2 linked regions of the Homo sapiens genome follow. The protein of the gene in region 2 interacts with the protein of the main gene of each other region in a pairwise test. Each region holds a gene or a part of one and is shown on either strand. Other genes may lie near its edges.

Region 1 (3,750 bases), on a different chromosome or scaffold from region 2:
TCTCAGGAAGACAAAAATCTTTTTTTAAATGACTAAAGAGGGGGTTGGGGGGGCAGAAAGGGGGAGGGAGGGGAAGAGACAGATGGAGAGAGGGAGAGAGTTGGAGAGACAGACCGCGCAGATAGCTCTACAGACAGAAAGGAGATGAGATGGGAGTCTGATGGACTTTCGCCGGGAGCAGAGGGGAGGGACGGGGTAATCAAGAGGGGTACAGAAAATAAGAGAAATCAGGGAGGAAAGAGAAAGGGTGATACAATTGCAGAAAATAGAAGCAGCTGATGAGAGGAGAAAACAGGGGGTAATAAAAGGAGACCTCAAGGACTGAAGGTCCGGAAGAAGAATCAGGAGCATAGGGGTGGGGAAGAGGTCTGGGGGGAGGGCAGGAACTAGGTCATTCTTTCCAAGATCCCAGACCAGGGGCTGGGAGGGGCAGGGGCAGGAACACACGGACTGGAAGCTAAAGATCTAAGGAGACTATTTTTACAAGCACCAGGAAAATAGTCAAACTTCACTGCTGGAGAGGAGAAAGGGAGCGAAGCCGAGCGAGGACCCACAGGGGCCTCTCACCCACAGCCCCTGTCCCGCTCCACCTTCCAGAGGAGGGCGCCATCTCCCCTCGGGAAGCAAGACTTTGTCTCCGCCTTCTCCCGCCCCCGGCCAGCTCCCGCCGCTCCCCGACGCCCCCGCCCCGCCAGCCCGGTCCATCTTCAGCCCTCTCCCCGCGCCTGTCCGGGTCATGAGAGCCTGCTCGGCCGCCGTACCATGCTCGCCGTGGGGCCGCCCCTCCACCGGCACGGAGACTGTGCGTCTCAGCAGTTTGTTGCGACTGGACTCGCTCCTCCGGTCCCGGATCAGTAGGGGGTGTATCTAGGGGAGGTGGGGGTGTGTCAGACCTCCCTGGCCCACGCCGCCCCTCCCCTCCCTCTTCCCCCCTCCGCCTCCTCCCAGGAAGGGCGGGCCTCCTTTTCCCCCTAAGCCTGCCCACTTTTTCTGCCCCGGCCCCTCCACACTTGGTGACTGGATCTCTCCCTTCTCTCCCCCAGTCTCTCTCTCTCATTCTTTGCCGTCCCACCCTCTTTTCTCCCTCCATTTGTCTTGAAACACCTTCCGGAGAATTCTCCCAAACCCTACTCAGCTCTTCTGCAACTCCTCAGAAGTTAGCTACTTCCTGAATCCAGTTTTCCCTTGACCTTCAGTTCCTCCATTCTCCCTGCTTTCCTCCCAACCTCCCACCTCCCTTACCCCCTTCTCTCCCTCCGAGCCTGTCACGGGGGTAGCAGAAGCTGCATTTATAATCAGGATCCACAGCTTGTCTCCCTCCCACGGCCCGGCTTGCGGCCAGACTGGGACCCAACCTCCCCTCCCGCCAGAGGGCCTGGTCACCTTCCCCCACCTTTCATCTCCTTCCATCACCCGACCCAGCATCTCTCAGTTCCCTTCTTCCCCTCAGCCATCACCTTTCCCTAAGCTTCACACCCAGCTCCCCCTGTCCACCTCCATCCCTACCTCCATACACCTCCACCCCTGCAGTCTCCTCCACCTCTACAAAGAGCCACAGGAACAGACCCCTCACTATCCCCCAGCCCCAGTTCCACCACCCATCCAATTCCAACTCCCTGCGTCTGTTCAGGCTGCTCATTTTCCCAATTCTATCTACTCCTCCTCCCACACACACGCCCTTCCTGCTCCAGACCGGCCATTCCTATTGCCCCTCAACTTGCTGGCCACTGGTCCCTTCAGTCTGTCCCTATCTCTGTCATTCCTTCATTACCCCAATCCATTGTCTTCCCTCTTCATCCCTATAACAGTCCCCACTCTGGGTTCCAGTTTCCCCCATTTCTCCTACAGACTCCAAACCTTGATCTAGGGGTTTGACCACAGTCACTCAAATGTCTCCCAATGGTGTCCAAAACTTAGACTCCCCAAGCCACCTCTCCTTTCAAAGTCACCATATCCTCTCCTTAACACCTCTACTTTACTCTGTGGCCTGGAAGCTGTCTACCCAGCCATCTCTCCACACTCTCACCTGCCCCCATAGGTCCCTTGACACTCTAGTTAGCCCTGACTCAAATTCTAACCCTTCCTCATCACACCATTCCCAATAACTTTCAGGGTCCATCTCTCACCACGTTTGGTTTTCCAGGCTACCCTACCATTTTTTAAAGCTTGTCCCCCAAATCACCCCCATTCCCTGACTCACACTTGTGGGGCACCATTCCAGTTTTTATCCTCTATTTCCTCCAATGGACACTCCTGCTGACCCAGCTCCCAAATCAGAACCCACACTTCCCTGGCTCTCAGATCTCCATACCTGGCCACCACCTCCCATAAGAGGCCTCTGTCCGTTTCATCTCCTTTACTCTGGCTAGTCCCTGCCCCTACTCCACTTGTACTCCTTTAGATAACTCCACATACTCCCAGTTCCCCTCCCTTATATTCCTTCCTGATGTCCAACCACTCCCTTGCAGAAGCCCTCTCAGTGTCTCTCTAAACCTTGATCTCAATCACTCTCCCAGTCTTCACCCCATCATGCCAAGATCCACTGACCTCAGTCTTCTTTCCCAGTATCCTCCAGCTACCTAAAACCTCCTCTATCCCCTGCCTTTTCTCTGCGTCCTGCAATTTCTCTTCTTGCACTCTGCCCCCTGATGGAGAAAGGACTGGGAGTCTTGCTCAGTGGGCAAAGCAGAGAGGGGTCCTGAGGATTGCTTTGGTTGGGAGGGCCTTCCATGTCTTCACCCCTTCTCCAAACCCTTCAGTTCCCCTTCCCCATTCTAACCTATCCTACAATATGGACAGTGTGAAAACAGGAGCCTCCCCACCCCCGAAATCTTCAGAACCACATCTCCTCCCCAACACAGCTCATAACCCTCAAAGACTCCCTGCCCAAGATGAGAGAATGACTACCCCTCTTGTCACACTCCAACCCAAGTCTCAATGGCCACCCTCCTGCCATTTGCAAATGTTTCTTCTTTGTCTGCCTTCTTTGTGTCTCTCTCCCCTTCACTAATGAGGACTCTCCCCATTCTCCCACATGCGTTTTCCCAGCCTTCTCACCACACTCACCTCATCCTCATCCAGCATGAGCAGCTGGTTCCCCGAGATGATGCAGAACCGAGGGTTCCAACCAGGACGATCATACGGGGAATGAACGTATTGGGTTCGGTGCATAGAGGGTCCCCGTACATCTGGAGGACAGAGACACACAGAAACAGTAAGGGAGGCTCTATGCATTTGGAAGCAGAGGCCTAAAATGGCAAGAAGAGAGTCCACAAAGTGAGAAGGGGACCCTACCGGCCTTCAGGAGATCACAGTTGAAAGTGAGACACCTGGCAACTCTAAAGGAACACAAGACAAGCATTTATACAAAGGGGAAAAGAGGAGAGGATCACATCACAGAAGGCTCTGGAGACTTGGGGGAAGAAATGCAGAGGTTCAGGGATGGGAATTATATGACAGAGAAGGTACACGTTTGGGGGCAGAGAAAGATGAAGGAGCTCTCCATCTACTTCAGGAAAATAAGGTAGAGGTGCCGCAAAATTGGCAGGAGAAAAACAGAGAAGTTGGTGTCAGATATCTGGGTAGAGGAAGGCATCCAAATAGCTGCAGAAGACAAGGACTTGGAAGGTGGCACCACCCCTCTATAAAAGAGTATGAGGAAAGCTACATGGCTGTGGGAAAGAAGGATGGGGTGTGTGTGTAGGAACATTGGGATCATGAGATTCTGAGGGCTAAATATCTAGAAAAGAA
Region 2 (3,750 bases):
GGTTACAGTGAGCTATGATTGTGCCACTGCACTTCAGCCTTGGCGATAGAGATCCTGTCTTAAAAAAAAAAAAAAAAATAGGCCGGGAGTGAATACATAGGCTGGGCACGGTGGCTCATGCCTGCAATCCCGAGGCAGGCAGATCATGAGGTCAGGAGTTCCAGACCAGCCTGGCCAACATGGTGAAACCCCATCTCTACTAAAAACACAAAAAGATTATCTGGGTGTGGTGGTGCGCGCCTGTAATCCCAACTACTCCGGAGGCTGAGGCAGGAGAATCACTTGAACCAGCAGGCGGAGGTTGCAGTGAGCTGAGATCTCATCACTGCACTCCAGCCTGGGCGATAGAGCGAGATTGTCTAAAAAAATAATAATAAATAAAATAAAATAAAATAAAATAAATATTGTAGTCCTAGCTACTCGGGAGGCTGAGGTGGCAGCATCACCTGAGCCTGGGAAGTCCAGGCTGCCACGTAATCACGCCACTGCACTCCATCTTGGGTAACAGAGTGAGACCCTGTCTCTAAATAAATAAATAAATAGAATATCCTGTACATAACAACAGTGAGCACTTTCACAGCCCTCATTTTTTCCCAGAATCTTCAGAGATGCAGACGTGCTCATAAAATGTTGTGTACATTTTATTTTTTTAGAATCTGAAAAACTGGGTCAGTGGGCGTTTCATGGGAAGTATAGAATGTTAGCAAAGTATCCTTTCTTAAGTTTTTCTGCGAAAACGGTAATAATGTAAGTATAACAAGGAGCACTTATAGTATTATTTTCCAAAGCCCTTGCTTAGGGAAGGAGCTTCAGTATTAAGTTGTTAAAATCCATACCCAAAGTATTTGTTATGCTTACAAAACTGGAGATGGTTCTGCTTTGATCCTATTTGCGGAAATTTGCATGCATTTAACAGAGGAAAACGTGGTCTCCTGCTCTATTAAGTTTGTCTGACTACTTTTAATAAGGCGAATTCACCTAAACTCTGTTCTAGGGTGTGAACACAATTACTTGCCCTGAAAATACTCAGTTTGACTTTTAAAGAGCTAAAGTGGTAACAGGTGGGGAGAGGGCTAGGCCAAATTGTTTGAGGGGGTGTGGAACTGTGGAATTTGAGTGAAGAGAAGGCCCAACTTTTTTTAAAAAAAGAGCGGGGCGAAATAACTTGGGGCACAACAGTATGTCTATTTTGTAGGCATCCCTCTTCCCCAGGGCAACTGGAGCCCAAAAAGTGGGTGAGAAAGCCATTCCAGGGCAGCCAGCACTTCCAGAAGTTTAAGGTCAGGATGCCGGAGCTCAGGGGAATGCCGATGCGCCGGGCAGGCTGTGCCTGGGCAGTTCATTCTGTGGCAGCTGGAGGCACTACTCGGCCGCCGCGGTGCGAACTGCGGGCACTGTGGGGCGGAGACCTAGGGGCGGGTCAACAAAGGTCGGGCGATTGTGTCTGGAGGCAAATCCGACGTAGACGGCGGCAGGCGGAGCCCAAAGCCGGTGATGCAGGGTGCGCAGGGATCCCACCTGGAGAGTCGGGGCGGCACGTTGAGACCCCAGGGGTGAAGGGCGGGGGATCCCAATCCCAGCCCTGTTTTCCCCTCCCCTTTCCCCGCCTCCTTCTCGCCCCTCCCCCCTCCTCCCCTCTGGTTGGAAAGTTTCTAGAATCTCTTCCCAGCGGCCTTTGCGGTTCCAACATGGCGGAGCTGACGGTGGAGGTTCGCGGCTCTAACGGGGCTTTCTACAAGGTACTGACCGTTTTGCCACTTTGTCGAGTGTTCTGGGTGCTGGAGCGCGTTTGAGGGAGGGTTGGTGGTCCCAGAGAGTGAGGTTTGGGGTCGGAAAGGCAGCCAGGCCAAAGCTCGAGGCCGCTGGATTCCTTGCTTCTCCCCCCTCCACCCGCGGTTTAACGGTCTCGGGGGCCGGGGCTCCGTTATGTTTTGAAACAACACGTCGGACACCTCTTGCATTTTCCTAGTTATGAACCCTCTTGGTTGCTAGTGCGGTTCTTGGCGGGCCGGTGGGAAGCAACTGAGTGGCTGCTGGGCGGCGGGAGCTCCTTCGGAGCAGGCCCGAGCTCTGGGAGGTGGGGGAGTCGTGAAAGGAGGCGGTGGGATTGTGTGGTCTCACCCGCTCCCCCGCCCCTCGAACTGGGCCGGGCGGGAGCTCCTCAGCCCGCTCCTCCGACCCCTCCCCACCCCTTGGGGCGGGTGTATCGCGGAATCTTTGGAATTCACCCTTGTATTTGAGTTTTGGGCCAACAAATCTTTAGTGTCTGAGGAGAATGGGGGTACCGGATTGAGGGTTAGGATCAAATACAGAAAAGCAGAAAACCTTGAATTGTGGCGGGTTGGAATATTTTTGCGGCCTGGGAAATTGGGCGGCGCCTTAGCCCCTCTATTACGGAAGAAAAGGAGAGTTGTGAGCTTTAAAGTAAGATTTAAAATGCGAAATGGATCAGGGAGATAGGTGGAGAGGTGACTAATTTCTTTATATCACTGCCCCTGTTTTTGGAGGGAGGTTTTGTTTTGTTTTGTTTTTTCTCCCACGAGGTTTTTTGTTTGTTTGCTTGGGAGGAAGGACATCCATTACTATGGAATCGGGGCTGAAAAACGTAAGAGGAATAGAGTAGAGGAATTTGGTGGGGCATTCAGCGTTCACATATCTGAAAATGAAATCCTAATAGTTTATTTTTTGCCACTATAGCGTTCTTTTCTCCTTATTTTCCCGAAATACGCCAGGTTGTTAGAAGATCAATACAGAATCTCCCCAGCTGTTGTCTGTCAGTCAATCTCACTAAGCCAGCATCTCAAATGTTTGAGAGTCTTGGCTATTTTTATGAAGGGCCTTCTTCTAATACATGAGTATTGTGCGTATGCAAAGTGAATTCTCACAGGTTTTCATTTCAGCGTACCTTTTATCCTATGGGTTTTTATTTTATTTGGCCACGATTTTCTATTTTCAGCATTTTGATTTTCTTTTCTTAGTTTACTGATTAGCTCTGTGGATTTGGTTTAACTGTCACGTGGTACCAGCATAATGGGGAATCACAGCGTATAAAGGATCCCCCTAAGCTTTTTGCAAGTTTAAATCTCCTTAGGTGGTAAACTTAAAGTAGGAACAGTGCCTGTTGGAAATGAGACTTTATGTTAATGCGTGAGTAGTTAACATTGACGTTCTCGGTTTAAGACTTGATGTCAGACCAATGACCTAGGTGAAATTTGAGTACATAGTTAATTGACTTTTGTTGTTATTGAAACCTGGTGGTTGCTTTCCCTGGACTACTGCAGATACAGTTCGCTGGGTAAGACGGCGAAAAGAATAGACTTATCTATGTTTTTCCTATCAATTGTAGATAAGTCGTTTTGCATCACCCCCCACCCCTTTCCCGAAAAGTTTTAAATTCTCACTATTTGGCCCTGTAGTTCTTGTATAAGGGAGGTATGCATTTTTTCTTGCATATTGGAAAAAATAAAGTGATTATTTTGCTTTATTTCATGGTTCTGCATCATGCATGTGGTAGACAACTATTTTTAGCAAAGTATATTTGTCAATAGCCTGCTATGCAAGATATTTTTTCCTTTTTTTAATAAGGTGAAGGTAATTTTAGTAAAGATTGTTTGCAGTCTTACTTTGGTTTCTCACGGTATTTTTTTTTTCCAGTCAATTCACAATGAATCAAATGTCCCCATTTTGGAACTCTGAAGTATTTATAATTGATCTCTATACATATCTACAATCTACTGCTTGTTTCTACTT

Evidence for each region. The genes of interacting proteins can lie anywhere in the genome.
Region 1: the proteins of FXR1 (region 2) and SYNGAP1 interact in binary tests that used the Homo sapiens proteins (3 or more experiments, as listed by UniProt).

The regions. Positions count from the first base shown.
Region 1 is NC_000006.12:33,422,915-33,426,664, reverse strand, and holds part of SYNGAP1 (ras/Rap GTPase-activating protein SynGAP), read right to left. Parts: intron 3,189-3,750; coding exon 3,067-3,188; intron 868-3,066; coding exon 762-867; intron 1-761. UniProt on the Homo sapiens protein: Major constituent of the PSD essential for postsynaptic signaling. Inhibitory regulator of the Ras-cAMP pathway.
Region 2 is NC_000003.12:180,910,998-180,914,747, forward strand, and holds the start of FXR1 (RNA-binding protein FXR1), read left to right. Parts: upstream 1-1,672; 5' UTR 1,673-1,688; coding exon 1,689-1,739; intron 1,740-3,654; exon of another isoform or gene 3,655-3,750. UniProt on the Homo sapiens protein: mRNA-binding protein that acts as a regulator of mRNAs translation and/or stability, and which is required for various processes, such as neurogenesis, muscle development and spermatogenesis.